Linked DNA regions of Homo sapiens: region 1 is linked to region 2. The links come from fine-mapping of genetic effects on gene expression. Tissue or cell type: whole blood. Region 2 holds a variant in brackets; the other region holds the start of a gene. All regions are shown on one strand. Distances are between the middles of the regions.

The links. PIP is the estimated chance that this variant, and not a neighbour inherited with it, causes the effect.
Region 1: it holds the start of WBP1L, and the variant in region 2 is fine-mapped to the expression of WBP1L in whole blood (TOPMed, PIP above 0.99).

What each region holds. Positions count from the first base shown.
Region 1 is chr10:102,741,505-102,746,612 of GRCh38, reverse strand. It overlaps WBP1L (WW domain binding protein 1 like), which reads right to left and starts at 2,665. Exons shown (of 4, transcript NM_001083913.2): 1 at 2,470-2,665. The coding sequence starts at 2,559. SFXN2 (sideroflexin 2) reads right to left here. Exons shown (of 12, transcript NM_178858.6): 12 at 3,121-5,108. RefSeq lists enhancers at 1,799-2,028, 2,969-3,018 and a silencer at 2,529-2,688.
Region 2 is chr10:102,062,146-102,067,311 of GRCh38, reverse strand. HPS6 (HPS6 biogenesis of lysosomal organelles complex 2 subunit 3) reads right to left here and starts at 1,963. Exons shown (of 1, transcript NM_024747.6): 1 at 1-1,963. The coding sequence starts at 1,837. RefSeq lists a silencer at 1,542-2,211 and an enhancer at 2,422-2,471. The variant A/G (reference allele first, on the strand shown) is at 2,764.

The DNA.
Region 1 (5,108 bases), 680 kb before region 2:
CCCAAAAAAACCCAAAAAAATACACTGACTAAATTGCGGTGGATTCAGAGTTAATAATTATATAGTAACTTGCATTCCGAAGGTTAAAATTCAAAACAGAAATCTCACTATAGATATCTAGTACTCCCAGACAGAAAGAGACAGGAGTATAAGGTGGGGGATGGAATTGTATAGGGAGCGTCAGGAGTGAGGGTATGTGGGGGCTGGTTAGGAAGAGGGCCACTGCTCATTACGAAAACTTTCCCTTCTCTGCAGGAATTGTAACCGTGTAACAGCTGTTGGTCAGTGATAGCATTCATCCAAATGGAACAAAGTACAAAAGACACCTGTCCCCAAAATTAAGTATTAGAAGTGCCACAGATATAAGAAAGCAGCCTGTGGTTTGCAAACTGCAATTAGAATATAACATTAACAATCCCCTTCCACATGTTCACAACACCTCCCAGGCTCCACGACCTGGTAGGAACCTCCACTTTCCATCATCCCCGTTGCTGAAAAAGTGGATCTAGTTCCTATCTTTGACCAGCCCATCTCCAAAGGCTCTGACATTCCTAAACCAAACCTCTACCGATGTTATTTATTGGTTACTGGGGACAGCCTTTTCGAGATACTTACAGAAACAGACATGTGCAAAGGAAAAGTAAATTCTGTATTTACTATATTCTATATTTTGTTGTCAATACCTATACTTAACTTTACTGGTCCTGAGGGCTATAACATTTCTAGTAAACAAAAAAAATATATTTCTTCTGCCAGTTTATGATTTCCACTGGAAAAACAACCCCAACAAAGGCTAAAACAGAAGGGTCCCAACCCTCGAAAAGGGAATACACTGGGCTAGAAAATGAGCTACATTCCTTTCACATGGTATTTCTAGTATACACAAACATATCCTGAGGAAAAATTAGACACTTCAATGCATAAATAAATTGTGGTTTACAGATAACAGAATGTTACTTGGTCATGAACAGGAATGAAGTACTAGTACATGCTACGATGTGGATGGGCCTTATAAACATTACGCTAAGTGAAAGGAGCCAGGCACAAAGACCACATATTGTAGGATCCCGTTTATATAAAATATCCAGAATAGATAAATCCATAGAGACTGAAAGCAGACGGGTGGTTGCCAGGGGCTGGGGGAAAAGGGAGACAGAGAGTAACTGCTTAGTAGGGACGAGGTTTTCTATTGGGGTGATGAAAATGTTTTGGAACTAGATAGAGGTGGTAGTTGCACAACATTGTAAGTGTACTAAATGCCACTGAATTGTTCACTTTAAAATGGTTTTTGTCATGTGAATTTCAACTTATTTTTTAATCAGTATTTTAAAATAGAGGATAATGGGCAAAACAAGATGTATTTGTGAAAAGGCAGCCCTAAAACTCCTAGGGAAAAGATAAGTATTTTTGCTGGCACTCAGTTTCTGCTCTTGTTCACAACACAAGTTCAAGCGCTAAGTTGTATAAACTTTGCCACTACGCTATGCGTCTATGTGTGTATGCCTTTCTGAAAAAACGGGGAAAAGAACAGAAAGTGAAGAAAAAAGAATCATAAAGCTTTGCCACATGCAAGGAAGGAGGGGTGATTGCCCCCACTGCACCCCACCCAACTTGGCACCAGGAGTAACGCTCCCATTAGGGTTTTGAAATGCCAGCTGGAGCTGGAATCAGCACAAGCAAGCTTCTCTGCCTGGATAAAGAGCAAGCCACCCAGCAAGAAAAGCTAGGGTGCTCCATTTGCTGCCCATATTGGCATCAGAACCACCCTCTGGTCAAAAGCCCTGAGCTGGCTCAGATCAGCATCCGTGACTTGCTCTCCCAGGCCAGCCAGCCTAACAGCAAGAGCTTGTTACAGCTCAAGTGTGCTCCTCCTCCTGAGGGGTTCCACTCTGTTTCATCCCACCTGCCTTCTGAGAGTCCTCCCTCCAACCAAGTGCGCCATGGCTTACAGATTTTAAAATGGGGCCAAGTCTCTCCCAGGAACATAGTAATTTTTTTTAAACGTACTAAGATGCCCTCGGAACTTTCCCCAGTCCATCCTTAAAGAAATATCCTCAGGATCCCCTCCCTCACAGGCCAACTCAATAGCCTGTGTACCCCTACACACACAGACGTACATACTGCATTACTGCCTGGGACACCTGCTCCACAGAGGGACACGAATAAGGCCCACATCCTCAGCTTGGCACCGCTATCCAGCCACAGTCACCCCAGCCCACCTAACCAACCTGCCGTCTCAAACGCCCCTCACTCGCTTGGCATCATGCCTCTGCCACCTCCTTGACACCAAAACTGTCACAGGTGTCCCTCAGCTAAATACCGACGCCCCTTTAGATCCTGTCCACGCCAGGCATAGACGCCCCTCTCGGGACCCCTCAACTCTTGGCAACAACACTCCTTCAGACCCCTCCAGCCAGGCCTCGACGACCCCCAGGACCCAACATGGCCCAGACGCCCCCTCCCCCTTACCTGCGGGGGTTCAGCCCTGGCTGACAAGGGGCTGGGCAGCGCCTGGAGGAGCAGGAGCGCCATGCCACCCAGGAGCCTTCTCCTCTCCATCCCCCTCCTGCTCCTGCTCCTCCGCCACGGCGCCGCCACCTCCCTCCTCCTCCTCCCTCTCCTCCTCTACCCTCTTCTTCCTTCTTCCCTTCTTTTCCTGTTTGACGCTCCCCTCCCGCTTCCGGCTCTGCTCCACCCCGCCCCGCGCAAAACACCCTCCCAGACACGCGAGAGACTCTCCAGTTCCAGCGCTTCATTGGCCTTTGCCCTTTGTCCATTGATCAATGTAGCTGTCGATCAAATATAAGTCCCGCCTTCCCCTGAAGACGAAGCGATGCAGCCAATAAAAAGTAGGAGGAAGCCGGACCATCTTGAATGCTGCGAAGAAGTGTAAAATTCGTCCCAACCCGCAGAGAGTGGCGGAAGCAGCTTCATAAGGGGGCGGGGCCACCCAGGTGGATGGAAAAGTCTATTTCTGATGTAGCCATCTTGAGTGTGGCGGAAGTACTAGTTTTCCAGTTTTCCACATCAAAAAAAGAAAAAAGGTTTAATGTTTCTCAAGGGTGTTGGAAAATAAATTATTCCTGAAAGGTAACCAGGCGCTCCTGAAGAGGAAAACAATTGCAATGTAAAAATATTTTAATGTCTTTTGTCTTGAAGCACAGCACTATTACCAGGATGCCTCTCTTGGTCTCAACTGCCCAAATAGCAGCTTAGGTCCGTTTGAATTCCCTAGAAGATAGTACCTTTATCTGAGGCATAGTGCTTCGTCACCCCAAGTTCGACGGACAAAATTCTGGTTCTACTTCACAAATTGCTCTGAAATCCATCATCCATTGCTTCAATCCATGTTCTTCTAGCTAAATACAAATGGCTTCCCTGCTGCCCTGCAAGTTGACAATTCTTCCTCTCAAATTTCCGCCACACACTACAACCATACCACATTAAACCAAATATTACTATATCATGGCCTCTTCTTTTAAATACTTCATCTACCTACAGAATAGAGAGTCCAAACTTCCCAACACGGTCCTCTCTGTGACTTCGTCCCTGTCTACTTCTCTTTATCTCACCTCTCACCACTACATTTTCCCACACATTCCACTCACACTGACCATTGAAGAGATGCCCAGTAACTTCATTTACATATTACAGATACAGTTCCCTGCTTACAAACTCCTAGCCCCATCTCCTTGCTGCTTCTTCTGGATTCTTGTAACACTTATATCTGCGTGCCTGGTTTGCAGTTTTTTGTACAGCATACCAGGTCTTTCTTCTTCTTCTTTTAAAGCCTATAATATCCTGTACAAGGCTCAACCAGAGCTTGATCAATGTTGGTAAAATAGCCAGGTGTGGTGGCTCATGCTTATAATCCTAGCCCTTTGGGAGGCTGAGGCAGGTAGATCCCTTGAGCTCAGGAGTTTGAAACCAGCCTGGGCAACATGGAGAGAACCCTGTCTCTACAAAAATAAAAAAACTAAATTAGCCAAATTAGCCAAGCATGGTGGTGCACACTTGTAGTCCCAGCTACTTGGGAGGCTGAGGTGGGACAATCACCAGAGCTAGGGAGATTGAAGCTGCAATGAGCCTTGATTGTGCCACTGTACTCCAGCCTGGGCAACAGAGTGAGACCCTGTCTCAAAAAAAAAAAAAGGCCAGGTGCGGTGGCTCCTGCCTGTAATCCCAGCACTTTGGGAGGCCGAGGTGGGCGGATCACATGGTCAGGAGTTCGAGCCTGGCCAACATTGTGAAACCCAATCTCTACTAAAAATACAAAAAATTAGCCAGGCGTGGTGGTGCATGCCTGTAGTCCCAGCTACTCAGGAGGCTAAAGCAGAAGAATCGCTTGAACCTGGGAGGCAGAGGTTGCAGTGAGCCAAGACTGTGCCACTGCACTCCACCCTAGGTGACAGAGTGAGACTCTGTCTCAAAAAAAAAAGAAAAAAAAAAGTTGGTAAAATAAATGGACAAAGGAAGACCCATGGCAAATAACACAGTTGACTTTAGCAGTCAATTTCCTCTCAAAAACCTGTCAAAGTGTTTTACAGCCTGGCCCAGTCTAGCCCACATCTGAGCCCAGAGGAAGTTGTTCTTGGCTTAAGTGTTGGAAAAATGGGAAACAGGTAAGAGTTAAGTCAGTCTTCCCTCAGCTTAAGAAAGTCCATAGTTCTGCCTTTATCTTGATCCTGCTTTTCCAAGTACTATAAAAAGTGACACGTATTTTTGCCAATCTCTCGTTTCTTAGAAATTTATCCATTCCACAAGTCAAGCTCCTTAGAGGAGAAGTAAAAATTGAGTACTAGGGAAGGACCAAATTATTTTCATGGCACAAGGTCTCTAATTCCTGGCCTCAAAAAGTTGTAAGTCTTCCACATAAAGGCTAGGTTTCATCATCACTAAGAAACCCCAGGTGGGATGTAGTGGCTCACGCCTGTAATCCCAACACTTTGGGAGGCCAAGGCATGAGGATTGCTTGAGGTCAGGGGTTCAAGACCAACCTGGGAAACATAGTGAGGCCCTCTGTCTACAAAAAATTTAAAAATTAGCTGGGCATGGTGGCATGTACCTGTAGTCAGGAAACCTTTAGGATTCTGGTTCTAGCCAGGATT
Region 2 (5,166 bases):
CTAGCACTGCCAGAGCTCGGCGATACAGGGGCAGTCCTGGGCCCCCTGCCCCCCAGCCCGGCCCGCCCTGCTGCTGTGCCAGCTCCACAAAGGGTGGCAGCCATCGAGGCTCCAGCTGGCACAGACACTGGCACAGGAGTTCAAAGGGGGGCAGTATTCCATTGGGGGGTTCCTTTCCAGCGGTTATTCCCCCTAACACTTTCTTCCACACATCAGGGGGTGCTTGGGACCTCAGCTTGCCATTCCCATCTAGCTGGAGCTGCAGGGCCCTGAGGGTGGCACCCCAGGCTGCTGTAGGAAGGGCTTGGAAAACGGTGTTGAGCTGGGCTAGCTGGTCTCCTATCAACTCAGTCCTCAGCAGGCGTGCCACTTCCTGCTCCGCCAGCTCAGTCCAACCAGCCTCCTCATCATCCCCAGCCACCAGCTGGGCCTTCAGCTGTTCTAAGCCTCGGTAATCCCGAAGCTCGGTCCTCAACATGGTCAGCAGTGCAGATGGGGGCAGGTGGCCCTGGAGGATGGAGGCCAGAGCCTGAGGTGCCCGGAATGTGCTGCTGTGTCTCAGTTCTTCTGGAGTGAGCTGGGCACCCCGCAGGCTCCGCCGCTGGTAGTACCCGCAGGCCTCCTCAAACACCAGATCCTTGGCTGAAGGCAACTCAACACCCTGTGGGGCTTCCCAGCCCACACAAAACAGACCCAAGGCTGAAAGCAGACGAAGATTCCCTCGGGTCTCCAGCTCTTCCTCATCCTCCATGCCGGGGGCTGGCGGTTCTAGCAGATGTACCCTGTCTGTACTTAGGACCTTCCTCTCCAGCAGCTGCCCACTGCCCATGTCCAGCAGTTCCAATGTGGAGCCCAGCACACAGGCCAGAGTGCCCTGAAATGTGCCTAGGGCTGCAGACCCCCACGGGCCTACAGGTGCCTCCTGCAGGGTGCCCACAGCCCGCGTACCACCGTGGGACTGCAATAGGCTCACAGTGCCCCCGAAGTCAAGCAACAGCAGGCCCTGGGGAGTTGGGGCCCAGGTGTGTACAGCCAGTGGCTCCCTGGGGGACAGCAACCCAGGAAGGCCTCGGAGCAGGGTCCGGAAGTCCCATGTGTCCCCTCGTCCAGGATTCAGACTCTTACTGTAGGAGAGACCAAGCCGTGGGGCAGCCACCATCACTTTGCCCTTGCCTGGGCTCCAGATGAGTAGAACGTGGGCCACGCCAGGCCAGGTGGTGGCAGTGGGCACCAGGAAGAGTTGTCTGCAGGAGGCCAGCAGCCCGAAGGCAGGGCAGTGGTGCAGCAGGACGTGTGTGCGGCCCAGGCTGGTGCTAGCTTCCCCGCTGGGCTCCAGAGTCCGGACGCACACACAGTGGCTGAAAGCGGCTGCTGGCGACCCTGACGGGCCCTCGGCCCGGGCCTGCCGCTCCTCGCACCACACCAGGCGGCCTCGGAGCGCCGCCACTGCCACAACGCGGGCTCCCCCGCCCGGACACAGCTCGGTGCTCTGCAGCGGCCGCCAGCCAGGCCCCACGCCCGCGCCCCACACCTCGGCCAGGCCACTCTCCCACACCAGCACCAGCGCCGGCCGCGCTGGCCACGGCAGGAAGAAGGCGTCCAGCGGGGAGGGCTGGCCGGCCGGCCAGGCCCGCTCTAGCTCCGCGCCGGGCCCTCGCGACGCGACTAGCAGCTGTGGGGCTACCGCCCCAGGGGGTCGCAGGAGCAGCAAGTGGCGGCCGTCCGGACTGCCACGGACTCGGACCGCTGAGTCCCCGGCCACCAGCTCCCGGAGCCGCGCCGCGCCGCCGAAGGCGCTCAGGTCCGAGAGCAGCCGCAGAGTCCCCGAGCGCTTCATGGCGCCGCTGCGCGGGAGCGCGCCCAGGCTTTGCCCAGGTCCAGCCGCCCAGCAGGGCGAGGCCCGATTCTCGGGGGAGCGGAGCAGGGCCAAGACTTCCGTCTCCCGTGGATGAGGTGAGCAGAGGCCGGGCCGAGCGTCGACTCCGCCCCGCCCGGCCGGCTCCGGGATGCCTCCCGCAGTCGCTGGGCCGACACTACACGCCCGCCGGGGGAGGAGCCACGGGAGCGCCCCAGGGGCTCAGCGCCTGGACCGCGCCCGCCCGGGCACGCTCTCGGCGCAGGGGGAGGCCCTTCCCCAGACCCCAGGACGCCGCCCAGTGGCCCGGAGTCCCACGCAGGAATAGGGATTCCAGCCCCCTGAGCCCCTCTCCCAAGAATTTCACCCCAATTTACTCATTCAGGAAATTTTCGTTGAGCACATGCTTTGTGCCAGGCTCTGAGTAGACAGCCCTAAACAAAATAGAAAACCTCAACCTCATGGAGATGACAATCTAGTGGAAATAGTAAACATGGCTGGGCGCGGTGGCTCACGCCTATAATCTTAGCACTTTGGGAGGCTGAGGTGGGAGGATTGCTTGAGGCCAGGCGTTCGAGACCAGCCTGAGCAACATAGGCAGACCTTGTCTCTATAAAAATTTTAAAAAGACAGAAAGAAAGAAAGAGAGAGAGAGAGAAGGAAGGAAGGAAAGAAAACCACTTCCATATCACTATGTGACAGCCTTCTCTATCCCCTAGTCCCTTTTACAGATAAGGAGGATGAAGCACAGAGAGATTACGTAACTTAACTAAGATCAAGCAGGTATTAAGTGGTGGAGGTGGGATTTCAACCACAGGCACTCTGGCTCCAGAGTCAGTGCAACAAATCACTTTATCATATCAACAACTCATCACCCAAACCAAAACAGAGAAACATAATTTAGAAGC[A/G]CTGAGCCTGTGTACCGACTCTTCAGTAACACCTACAAATTTGTATGCAGGGGTCCTTCCACCCCTTGACTGCCTTTTCAGGTGAGCAGTTTTCCTCCTCTCTCCAAGGCCAATCCCTCTTTATGAGCCCTGCCTCTCCTCCCCGGCCCCTACCTTCCTTGAGAACTTGCATCCATTTCTGTTTCACTGCCCTCATTCCGTCCTCAGCATAGAAATACCCTGTCATCTCTCCTGTCTTGGAATTCGTTCTTTCATCCTCATCTCCCCACTTCCACCTCCATCACTCCCTCCCCTTTTCCTTTCTCAGTCAATTTTCTTGCAAGGATGCTACATTTGCCACCTCCACTTTCTTTCCTTCTATCCTCAACCCACTACTTCCCTGAAGTAGCTTTTGCTGAGGTCTTCAAGGACATTTTTATTTGACAGCCTTCTCATTGAAAGTCCCTCCTGTGGTTTGCACTGCATCTTTCCTGGCTGGTTTTCCTTTCCTTTTATTTTATTTTATTTTTTTATTTTTATTTTTAGATAGCACTGCCTTCAGAGTTTTATTTGCCTTTGGTTCATCTTCCTCCATCCTTTATTGATTGATTGATTGAGATAGAGTCTCACTCTGTCGCCCACGTTTGAGTGAAGTGGCACCATCTTGGCTCAGTGCAACCTCTGCCTCCTGGGTTCAAGCGATTCTCCTGCCCAGCCTCCCGAGTAGCTGGGATTAGAGGCACCCACCACCACGCCCACCTAATTTTTGTATTTTCAGTAGAGACAGGGTTTCACCTTGCTGGCCGGGATGGTCTTGATCTCTTGACCTCGTGATCCACATGCCTTGGCCTCCCAAAGTGCTGGGATTACAGGCATGAGCCACCGTGCCTGGCCTATTTATTTATTTATTGAGACAGAGTCTTGCTCCGTTGCCCAGGTTGAAGTGCAGTGGCGCAATCTCGGCTCACTGCTATCTCCATGTCCCAGGTTCAAGCGATTCTCCTGCCTAAGCCTCCCTCCCTAGTAGCTGGGATTTCAGAAGTGCACCACCATGCCCAGCTACTTTTTATATTTTTAGTAGAGGTCGGGTTTTGCTATGTTGGTTGGCCAGGCTGGTCTCGAACTCCAGGCCTCAAGTGATCTGCCCGCCTTAGCCTCTCAAAATGTTAGAATTACAGGTGTGAGCCACTGTACCCGGCCCCTCCATCATCCTTTAAATGTGCTCTTCCTCCTATATCCTGATTCCACTTTGAGCCCCTTTATTTTTTTCTTTTGCCTACAGCTCAGACGTCTCTGCTAAGCTCCACACAAAAAAAGAGCATCCAAATGTCTACTAAATATTTATTTCTGCCTAAGATGTCTCATCTCACAGACATTTCATTCTCAACATGTCCTAAACATCATCTTCCTGCCCCAAACTGCTCCTCCTTCAGTTGCTCTTAGTTGACATAGATTTCTTTTGTTTTTGTATCCTATCCTCATATTTAGAGTAGAGCCTGACACAAAGTCTCCACAGATGTTTGGTGAAGGAATCATTACGTTTTCATGGGCACATGTTTGTGTGTGTGATATCACTTAGAAAACTTTTCCTTAAAAATTACAGAAGTAGGCCAGGCACGGTGGTTCACGCATGCAGTTCCAGCTACTCAGGAGGCTGAGGCAAGAGGATTACTTGAGGCCAGGAGTTGGAGTCTGTGGTGTGCAATGATTGTGCCTGTGAATAGCCACTGCACTACAGCCTGGGCAACATGGCAAGCATCCTGTCTCTTTAAAAAAAAAAATTACAGAAACAGACCATGGCTGTCTTAAGCAAAAATGAAGTTATTTAGAAGAACATAGGGGACTCACAGAATCTTCAGGAGAAAGGAAGAACAGGTGTGGCAAATGGTCATGAACCAAGACACCCACACCCACCAAATACTAAGAAGTAGGAAGCACGACTTTTTTTTTTTTTTTTTTAGACAGAGTCTTGCTGTCTCCCCAGGCTGGAGTGCAGTGGCACAATCTTGGCTCACTGCAACCTCTGCCTCCTGGGATCAAGCAATTCTTCCACCTCAGCCTCCCGAGTAGCTGGTATCACAGGTGCACACCACCATGCCCTGCTAATTTTTGTATTTTTTGTAGAGACGGGGTTTTGCCATGTTGGCCAGGCTGGTCTTGAAGGTCCTGGCCTCAGGTGATCCACCTGCCTCGGCCTCCCAAAGTGCTGGGATTACAGGTATGAGCCACTGTGCCTGGCCACAACTGTTTTTTTAGCCGGAACAATTTGTTAAAGATACCATGATCTCTGGTGCTATACAAGCTGATCACTGCACTGGAAGACAGCACCTGTTATGAATAAATTCTGATCATACCTTCTATTGGGGTTCACCTCATTACACCTTTCTCTTACACCTGCCTACTTTTTTATATTCTATTAGGGTA